Linked DNA regions of Homo sapiens: region 2 is linked to region 1. The links come from fine-mapping of genetic effects on gene expression. A gene starts in region 1. The other region holds a variant in brackets. All regions are shown on one strand. Distances are between the middles of the regions.

Region 1 (5,366 bases):
GTTGATGCTGGGAGAAACGTGTGGCTTGCAGAGCTGCCAGTCCCACAAAAACCACATCCTGAAAGATGGACCAAGTAGAAAAAAAGGCCACCATCCACCTCAGGCCAGCTTCTGGAACTGTCAGTTCCTTTGGGGAATGTCTGACATGTTCTTTTTCCCTCTGATTTCATCCCAAACCTTTTGAGAAGCAGGTTGCGTGGCATTGCACAAGTTACTTAGATTTACTGAGCCTGTTTCCTCCTGCAATAAATGGGCACGAGCCTCCCTGGGCTGTTAAGGAAATTCAATCAGAAACTGTGTAAAGGCCCTGAGGCACTAAAGGCCAATTTGGGTTCCCGACCTCCTTCCCACCGTCTGCCCTCCATCCCAGGCACACAACCAGAGAGATGTAAGAGGGACCTAACGGTTACCCAGCCGGTCTGGCATCTGACCGGGGTGAAAATGCATCTCTGTATATGAGTTGCTTCATATCTTTTGGCTTTAGTTTCCCCAGCCATAAAAGTGTGTTTGGGGTGGGGGAGGAGGACTATGATCTTCACAAGCCCTTTTAGACTTGGGGTGTTAACCTTACATGAGAGAAATGCCTGGAAGAAAAGCATGGCTAGTTAGCAGGAACGCCGCTGGGTTGGAGGCCGGGCAGCTCGGAGGCGCAGTATCCTATCTGGGCCACCAGGCGGCTCCGAGGACAACAGATGAGCAAAGCCCGCTTTTGCAGCCTGGTTCTGTCTTCAGATCTTTCCAGGCTTCTTCGCAGGCCTGGCGGACACCAGCCGCTGCTGGGTGGGAAAGGCCTGTCACTCCCAGGCTGGAATCGCTTTCCCATTTTTACAGACCTCGAAGATGAGAGGAGGCCGTCACCACAATGGATTCCGGCCCTGGGGTCTGATGGAGACATTGGTCCGCCCTTCGGTCAGACTCTTGGGGGCGTTAGGGGGGTGGGGGGGTCTCTGCTCTGCAACCCTTAGCTGAACCCCATCCTCCACTTCTCTCCTCCCGTCTGGTCAGAGTGGGAAGAGGTTTGGATTGGGATCCCCCCTCCTGCACTTCCTGGCTGGGTAACCTGGACGATGGGATAACAGTCCCCCGATTGCAAGGTCAGGGGAAGGACTGTGTCAGAATATAGGCCCTCAGTGCAGGACAGTTGCTCATCCTAAGCCTCTCCTGCCTTTTGCTCTTCCAGTGGCTTTTCACCCAGAAGGAAGATCCTCCCCTGCAGAACCTCTCCCCAGAACTAGGTCTTTGCAGGTGACGAGGTAATCCCAGCCTCCCCTCCCCGCAGATCAGCGTTTTTCGAAGTGACTTTCTCACCAGGCGGAGCATTGAAAGTACCGATCCCAGCGCACCCAGCCCTGCTGAATCAGAATCTCTGGGGGTGAGGCCCAGGAATCGCCGTCTGAACAAGTCGCGGGCTGGAAACGGCTGCCCCAGATTACAGGGCAGCTCCCTGCTTCGCTCTCGCTCCTCCGGCCCCGGGAACGTGCAGGGGGGCGGGAGGCAAGTCCCATCAGCACTTTGAACTGGGGCTGCTTTTTAGTGACTCACCTCCCAGACTTCCTGCAACAGACAACTCTAAATAGCTCGGTCCCACCCTCCAGCAGGGGAGACATTCCGGTCGGGAAGGGCAGGAGGTTAGAAGGTGGGTGCCCCGCCAGGGCAGTCCAGGGAGACCCAAGGACAGGAGACGCTGGCTGCACAGCACAGGGGCGCACGAATAGGACGTTTTGTTTACAGGCTTTTGTTATTAAGGAAATTGGTGTCAGTCAAGGTAATTCTAGCTCAGATGAGCAATAAATATGCTCCCAGCTAATCTTGTGGGGATTTTATTGGCACTCGGAGCAGAGGTTCCTTTACCTTGACTACTCCCTCCCCTCAAAGCAAAGTCCTGCTCCCCAGCGGCTTCCCCCTAAGCATCGTGAGGCACTTGGGTCAGGCTTTTAAAAGTCCACTCTACGTGAACACAGAAGAGGTCCGGGCAAAGGTGAGGAGTGGCTTCCTGATCCTACCTGGAGGCCGAGGATGACCAAATGACCTGAAATAAAACCCTGGGTGACCTGGTTGGATCAAGGCATACGCAAGCTCCCCCGGGCCTGCTCCACACTCGGGGTGATCACCTGGCCCGCGGGCGGCCCGGGCAAGGAGGAACGTCTCGAGAAGGCAGCCGGCTCGCCGGAGTCGGTTCCAGCGTGTTCGAGTTACAGCTGCGAGCCCTCAGGGACACCGGCGGCAAGTCCCGGCTTGCAGAGAGGGGAGCCAGTCCCGGGAGAGCGCGAGTCCCGGCGAGCCCGAGTGCGCGCCTTATGCGCGCTCCCCGCGACGGCGCAGGGGGAGGGGAGGCCGCAGCAGCCACTCAGAGGAACGGTAGTGAAGCCTCCCAACAACTTTAACTGTCAATCAGACTTAATGGGGTATTGAAAAAATGGGGGAAAAAGGGGCCGCCCTCTCCGCGACGCGGCTGCCCGGGGAGCGAATGAATAGGGCCGCGCAGACCAAGGCGTCCGATCCACGCGCGCTCCACACCCGGACCCTCTCCAAGTTGGAAAGGACAAAAAGAAGGCAATAAATGCTAAAAAGGGAGAGAAGGGGAGCTGGATCGAGCGGCAACTCCCAGCCTCTGCTGGAACAGAGAGGGAGGGAGGGAGCCGGAGCGAGCGAGCGCGCGCGAGGGCGAGCGCTGCACGTAAAGAAACTGACACCCGGACCCCCCACTTCTCCTGCACGTTGCTGGCAATCAGATCGCGTTTAAGCAATTTCCTGAGCCCAAGAATAGCAATGAGTCGGGAGACTTTCGCGGGCTGAAATTGGGAGCTCCAAGCACTTTTTCCCCCCACTTTTTTTTTTTTTTTTTTTCTGGAGACGGGGTGGGGGTGGGGGCGCTACAATTTGGAATCAGCTTTTTTTTTTTTTTTTTTTTTTTTTTTAATCTTGCACTTTGAAACCGCGGGACCGAGGCAGGGTGCGCGCGTGTGGTTGGTGCCTTTTTTTTTTTTTCTTCCCCTCCCTAAACTCCTCTGTCAGTCTGTAAACATTACCTGAGAATTCCCCAGCCGAAACGGCTGCTGGGGCAAGAAACTTCTTGTTAGAACTTTCCACCTCCGGCTTCCCCCTCCACCTCTTTTACCGTCCCAACCTTAGGAGACGCTTTTTCTCCCCCAGAGGAGAATTTATCTTTTTTTTTTTTTTTTTTTTCTTTTTCTCACCCGGTGCTTTGCATTTGGGAAGAGGTGATTTCAAGAGTGGCCAGGTGGGACGCCTCTCTCCTCCTTATTCGGTTTACTATTTATTGTTCGGGGTGTTTTTTAATTCCTGTATTGCTCGGCCCGGGGAGTTTCGCCCCCTGCCCGGCTCCGCGGCGCGGAGGATGGTGTGGAAACGGCTGGGCGCGCTGGTGATGTTCCCTCTACAGATGATCTATCTGGTGGTGAAAGCAGCCGTCGGACTGGTGCTGCCCGCCAAGCTGCGGGACCTGTCGCGGGAGAACGTCCTCATCACCGGCGGCGGGAGAGGCATCGGGCGTCAGCTCGCCCGCGAGTTCGCGGAGCGCGGCGCCAGAAAGGTACCAGGCACTGCGACTCCAGGGAGTGGGGGGCCGCAGGGGCGGGGGTAAGCCCACCTGCTGCCGCTGCGGGATCCCGCGCCCGGGAGCTGAGAGTCGCCGGCCACCCCACTTCTCCGCGCCACCCACGAGTGCTGAGCTAGTCGGTTTCACCTTGTAAATTTCCCGGGCACCGGACTGTCTTTTTTGGCAGGTTCAGAGTTGATCCGCTCCTTTGGGATCGGTGGCTGGCTGACTGGCTATTCACCCCCACCCTGAAACCTAAGAGACCCACCATTTCCCACATTCCTGCCTCCCAAAGGAAGGTGTTGTGCCCCCCTCCCCCGCCTTCCCCCCTTTTTCTTGCCGCCACCCTGGTGAGTGCAGGGTGTGCGCACTCCTGGGTAGAGCTGGGAGCCGCCTGCTAGCTGGCGCCTCGTATTTTCCTTGGCAACCCGCTACCCAGCCCCAACCTGGGCGGCTGCAGCTCTGAAGACACGAGAGAGGGTACTTGGTTTGGGTTTGAAAAGGGAAGAGCGGTCTTGTATGCAGTAGTCTGGCCGGACCGACACTGAGAGGCCCAGGTGTTTGGAAAGCAGGAAAGAGGAGGCCAGGGTAAGCAGCTACTGATAAAGAGCCCTTGTTCTCACCTTCAACCCTGTCCCCTCCCCCCCAGTACACCCCCCAGGGATCCCTCCCCATTTAGCTGGAAGGTGGTGCTGCAAGGAGGGTCCTGCCCACCAAACACGGCCTTTAACTTTTTGGTGGTCCTGGCACCCCTTGCTCCAGGTTTTGGAGACCTGGTGCCAGAGTGGGGAGAGTGGGCAGGCTGTCACCCAACTCCCAGCCCAGGCCAGGCTGACTCACGCGGTGACCAGAGCCATCAGGAGAGGGAGGCAGGCCAGGCTGTCTCCAGCCAGCCCTGTGAAGAGGAAGAGCGAAAACAGGGAATTAGTTTGAAACTTAAACTGTTGTGAACTAGGGGGGTGAAAGGGCCGCAAAGCCAGCTGATCTGACATGGAGCCGCATACCTTGGGGATTAAGTAAATATGTACTGTAGAAAACCAAACCTGCATGTAATTCCAGGTTGCTTTTGTTTTGTTAAATACTGCCCTGAGATTTACAATTCCTCCGGGGTGGCTCTGACTGGGACTGAACTTTGGAGCCTGAACTATCAGCCAAAGCCGATCCGATTAACTCTTCCCTAGCCGGGCTGGCCGGAGCCTGTGGTGGCCAAGCTAGCAGGGGTCTGGCTGTCCAGGACTCCCTCTTCTCCTTGGGTGGTTTGGACAGCCGCTTGACCTTGCATTTGGAGGGGGAGTTGGGAAGCGTTTTTAACCCTTGGACACAACGAATAAGGGGAAGTCAGAGTTGTTCTCAGCAGTTTCATTTCCTTGAGGCGATGCCCCATAAAAGGGCTCCTGAAGCTCTTTGTGAAGGGGACTGAAAAGGGCAGATGAGGGTGTCCTTTGGGGCGGACGTGGGGTTTGGGACAATTGCATGTGATTGTCATTCTTTAGCTGTCTGCATCCCACAGAAACTTTTTTCTGAGTCTTCCAGCTGGCCCAAGTCCTGGGTCTCTTTTACTGTTCTTGTAGCTGACTACAGTAGGCAGATGAGGAACTCTTAGTCAATCTGGAAAAACTCGACTGACTATAAACAATCCTAAATTGAAAGAAGTGTATGGCATTGGGGGGTGGGTGTGATAGTACAGAGTGGAGCCTGCAAGTTCACGCACCGGGAACCAAACCCCACCTAACTTGGACTGGACGTCCTCTTCCAGGGAATCCAGCCAGGGCCAATTAGAAATGTGTCTTAAATTGGTGTCAGGGTC
Region 2 (5,366 bases), 28 kb after region 1:
ACCCAGGGTGATCTCACTTTGAGATCCCCAACTCAATTACAGCTACTCAATTCCAAAGACCCTCTTTCAGCATAAGGTCACATTCACAGGTACCAAGGGTTAGGACTTGGACTCAGCTTCTCAGGGGACACTAATCAGCCGACTGTACCACATCCGGGCAGCCGAGAGGATTCAGTCTAAGAGCCCAGAGCAGGATCCAGCCTGCAGTAAAGGTCCACAGATTGTTCACTGTGGTGGCGGTGAGTGCTTGTCACAGTCCCACCCCGCCCACTTGGAGAGCAAGGGTGCTCCAGGCAAACCCCATACCCCCTCACAGCAAACACCAGCCCTGGGCACTGTGCTGACCCATGCTCAGAACAGCTTCTGTCCTCACCTGTCCTCCCACCTGAGCCCCATCAGAGCCCCAGTGTCCTCGCAGAGGGGCAAGGAACATCTCTGCCATGCCTTTCATAACCACTTGGTCATCAAGACCGAATGATGACCGCACCTTTCCCTCATTCCCTGGGAGGTGGACACCTTTCTGTCCAGTCCTTGGACATGGCATCAGCTCACTGTACCTGTGCACTGAATGAATATGTTGTTTCGTGGGGTCATTTTGCTCCCGCAGGTAAAGTCAGTGGCCAAGGGCACAGATTGCATAAGTTGAGGTCCCAGCTCTACCGCTTACCGCTTGGAATTACATAGCCCCTTCGTGTATCAGTTTTCTCGGGTATGAGCCCTTCTGAGCTGACAGAGGACTAGACGCCCCACGGCACCCATGCTGAGGCAGTGTGGCCAGCTAGTGAGCCCCACGTGCATGTCAGAGCTACTGTCATTCCTGTGCCTCCCAAGCGGGCCAGTTCCAGGCTGGACGTCCGCCTGGAGGAAGTCTCTGCCCTGCTCCAGGTTGCGGTCAGGGACTTGTGGGAGGGCGACACCACTGGCTGATCTAATTTGAGGAGCTTCATCACAATCCTCCCCAACAGCTGAGCCAGCGGTAGCCAAAACATTCTCGGCAGGCCAAAACAGGGGCCTGGAGCCAGGGAAAGCCTGTTTTGCAGGGCTACGTGGGAGAGACCTGCCTAGGCTTCAGCAGCCCAGCAGTGCAGGAACAGGAAGGACACATAAGGACCTAGCCGAAGTCCCTGACAGGCCCAGTGGCTTCTGTCACCTCTGACCTCCTGGGGTCAGCCGTGGGGCACCTGTAACGACCTAGGGCTACACCAATAAATGCTAGCTGTTACTATTTTTATTAGTACAGCAACAGATATAGATCCCCCTTGCTGATGGAAGATCCAGAACCCTGCTGGGGTAATGGTTGCCTGGAAAACCCGAAGCTCTATGTCTGTCTCCTCCCCTAGAAACAGCCTTGAGTGGGACAAAACCACAGAATCGCACGATCTCTCTGTCCCCATCCTTTTACCTGACAGCATGCAGACTGGATTGTGTAGAGTCTGGAAAACAGGCCTCCCAGAAAAAAAGGTGGAAGGGATTAGAAAGTCTGGGAAGGAGATGCTGGAAGTCGGTACCTGATCATTGTGGATCAGTTTTGATCAGTGTGATCAGTGTGGATCTGCACTGGAAGCAGAAGGGCTGGTAGGCTTGTTGGGTGTGCCCGAGTGACAGGCCAGCACTCTCAATGGGTGACAGCTAGAGGGATCCCACTGGAGTCCATTCGGAGAAAGCAGGCTTCCTTCCAGGGCTGTGCTGGGGAGGAAGAGGCTGCGGATTCAGAGTCACATTCCAACTATTTTTTTTTTTTAGCGACAGAGTCTTTGTAGAAATGACTATTCTAGGTCGGGCACGGTGGCTCACGCCTGTAATCCCAGCACTTTGGGAGGCCGAGGCAGGTGGATCACCTGAGGTCAGGAGTTCGAGACCAGCTTGGCCAACATGGAGAAACCCCGTCTCTACTAAAATTACAAAATTAGCCGGGCGTGGTGGCGCATGCCTGTAATCCCAGCTACTCGGGAGGCTGAGGCAGGAGAATTGCTGGAACCCAGGAGGTGAAGGTTTCAGTGAGCCAAGATCACGCCACTGCACTCCAGTCTGGGCAACAAGAGTGAAACATCATCTCAAAGCAAAAGAAATGACTATTCTAGAAACCTAAAGTGTCACCACTCTGGGTGACTGGGGCAGGAGTGAGGAGAAGCCTGGAATGATATCTGCTTGCTCCCCACCCCACCCTCAGCACCTCCAGAG[G/T]CTCCTCACCAGAACCCCCAGAGTTCCTTGGGGCTCTGCTTGAAAACCTCTCCTCCCTAAGAAATCCCCCCGCAGCTTGCTCTGCAGGTGGACAGTTTTGACAGCTGGTCTCTACCTTCTCAGGCTTGGGGACGTAGAAAAAGGAGAGCCTTCTAAGTAAGGTGGAAGGATGGAATCAAGAAATAGCAAGATTCTGTGGTTTTGCCCCAGTCAAGGCTGTGCCTAGGGTAGTCAGATGGAGGTGGAGACCAGATGGGGTCTTCCGGGCAACTGTTTCCCCAACAGGGTATGTGGATCTTCTACTGCAAAGGGGGATCTATTTCTGTTGCTGTGCTAATAATAATAATAATAATAATAATAATGACAGCTAGCTTTTTACAAAACAGAGACAGAGTCTTGCTATGTTGCCCAGGCTGATCTTGAACTCCTGGCCTCAAGTAATTCCCCCACCTCGGCCTCCCAAAGTGCTGGGAATATAGGCGTGAGCCAACATATCCAGCCCACAGCTGGCATTTATTGTGCCCTTTCTTAATCCTCCCAACTACTCTTCAAAGTGGGTGTTTTAGGCTGGGCACGGTGGCTCACACCTGTAATTCACCATATTGGTGAATTATGGTGAAACCCCATCTCAACTAAAAATACAAAAATTAGCTGGGTGTGGTGGTGCACACCTGTGATCCCAGCTACTTGGGAGGCTGAGGCAGGAGAATCGCTCAAACCCAGGAAGCAGAGGAGGCAGTGAGCCGAGATCGCGCCACTGCACTCCAGCCTAGCCCACAGAGCAAGCCTCCATCTCAAAAAAAAAAAAAAAGAAAAAGAAAAGAAAAGAAAAAGAGTGGATGTTTTAAACCTTAATTCATAGAGGTTAAGATCATGTTAATTCATAACTGTTAAAGAATTGAACCCAGGCAGTCTGGCTCCAGAGCCCATGTTCTAAGCTGCTCTACTCGAGAAAGGGTCTCTCCTTTTGGAAATAGACAGGGTTGTGAAAGGGGGAAATTCTAGTAGTAACCTATGCCACGCTCACACTCACCCTCTGCTATCTAGCACCCCATTCTAACCTTAATGTCTTAAAAGCTAGATGTTGCTTGCCTGCTCATTCTCATCTGACCACAGGGATGGATTTTTATTAACAGCCTCCTACTGGAGGGGCCAGGAGCAGAGAGCTGTGCACCCTCCACGCTGTGACCTTCCCACCCCACCGCCCAGCCTGCTGTGGTTTGGGGTCTCTGGCGGGTATTTTCTTTCCCTCTGAGAAGCCAAGTCAGCACCGATCCAGCTCCAAAACATGGGGCCCATGGGACATGAGCTGGCCTGCCAAAGACCTGCCCAGGGTCTCAGATCTTTCAGGGGCTGCCAATTATAAACAGATGCTCCTCCTGGGACGCACCCAGAGACCACCCAGCTCATGTCGCCGGTGGGAGGGTGCGCTGCAGCTGAACTCCAGGAATGAAAGCCAAGTCCAGCATTAGTGCAAGCCCCTCTGGGCTAGGAAGGCAAGGCTGGGTAGAGAAGGGGCACTCGGTATCCTCCTGGGGCTGGTGTCTTGTGATGATGTTAGCTGAGCTTTTACTCTTGTGCCTGGCCCATGCTGGATGCTGGGGTTACGAGATGAATAAGATTCCCTGGAGGACCTTGCACGCTCATGGGAGAGGCAGGGGTGTTCACCAGTCAGCATGCTCACATCTGTGCACTAGTGGAGGTTGAAAAAAGACTAGTGTTAGCAGTGAGGAATGGGTATCCTGAGTCAGGCAGATCTGCTCTTATGAGCTGCATGACCTTGGGTGAGTCACTGTCTGTCTGCGGCTTACCTATTAAATGCAGAAGGTAAACATACCCACCTCGAGGGGTTGTGAGGATTAAAGAAGAAAACATATCCATGTACTCAGCACAGTGTCTGGCCCATGGCAACTGCTCAACAGATTTAGCCATTATATAGTGGTGGTGCTGTTGTTGTTGTGGGGAGGCTGGAAGGAGCAGCCAGGGAGGCTTCAGAACTGAGGGAGCATTCAAGTAGGGTTTTGCAGGTTGAATAGGAGTCCATAAGTAGCCCTGGCATTTGAAACAGAGAAAAACAGCCCGGGCCGGGCACCAGGTAGGGACACAGGAGAAACCTGAATTTGAGAGATTTAGTCCCTGTCCTCTAAGAGACAGGATATAGACCCCAAATGGCCGTGACAGCACATGCAGGGCCAAGAGCACTGTGTAATGAGTGAGTGGAAACTGGGAGCTGTGGATCCCCGGCAGGCTCCCTCCCTCACTCACTCAACAACAGGAAGAGAGATGTGAATAGACAGTCACTTGCCAATGGATGAGGGCCCCCGAAGAGCACCACTCGGGGGCTGGGGGACAAGGGGTTGGACCCAAAGGGCTGAGTGACATTACCTGTGTGTAAAGAATCTATTTGGAGAGTGATCCATGGGGAAGCTTTTACTCTACCTTCTGTTGTTTTTTGTTTTGTTTTGTTTTGTTTTGTTTTTTGGTTTTTGTTTTTTTGAGACCGGCTCTCTCTCTGTCATCCAGGCTGGAGTGCAGTGGTGAGATCTTGGCTCACTGCAGCCTCTGTCCCCTGGGCTCAAGCAATCCTCCCACCTCAGCCTCCTAAGCCACCACACCCAGCCCCACCTTCTATTTTTAAGATCATAAATAACAATACTTGTTCTTTAGAGATATTTTTTGCTTATACAAATATAAAGAAGCAAACGACAGTCAGCTGTGATCCTGCCTGAGACACCCATCTCTGTGTAGCCTGTTGACTTCCAGTGACCTGGTGGCTTATGCCTGTAATCCCAGCACTTTGGGAGGCTGAGGTGGGAGAATCACTTGAGCCCCAGGAGCTTGAGACCAGCCTGGGAAACATGGCAAAACCCCATCTCTACAAAAAATATAAAAATTAGCCAGGAGTAGTGGCTTGCACCTCTGGTCCCAGCTACTTGGGAGGCTGAGGTGGGAGGATCACCTGAGCCCAGGAAATGGAGGCTGCAGTGAGTCATGATTGCGCCACTGCACTCCGGCCTGGGCAACAGAGTGAGACTCTGTCTCAAAAAAAAAAAAAAAAAAAGTTTAGAGTTGAGATTATCTTATTCAAATAGTGCTGCACCCCTTTTGTCTGAACATTAGACTCCTGAGCATTTTTCCATGTCGTGTCACTTATCATTTTAAAGCCTGCAGAAGAGGGTGTATCA

The links.
Region 2: its variant is fine-mapped to the expression of DHRS3 in whole blood (TOPMed, PIP 0.97).

The regions. Positions count from the first base shown.
Region 1 is chr1:12,615,341-12,620,706 of GRCh38, reverse strand. It overlaps DHRS3 (dehydrogenase/reductase 3), which reads left to right and starts at 2,497. Exons shown (of 6, transcript NM_004753.7): 1 at 2,497-3,553. The coding sequence starts at 3,359. RefSeq lists a silencer at 490-741 and enhancers at 977-1,608, 1,609-2,240, 2,241-2,872.
Region 2 is chr1:12,587,018-12,592,383 of GRCh38, reverse strand. All of the region lies in intron 1 of DHRS3 (dehydrogenase/reductase 3), which reads left to right. Among named protein-coding and RNA genes, the nearest start is that of MIR6730, 11 kb to the right of the region's middle. The variant G/T (reference allele first, on the strand shown) is at 2,182.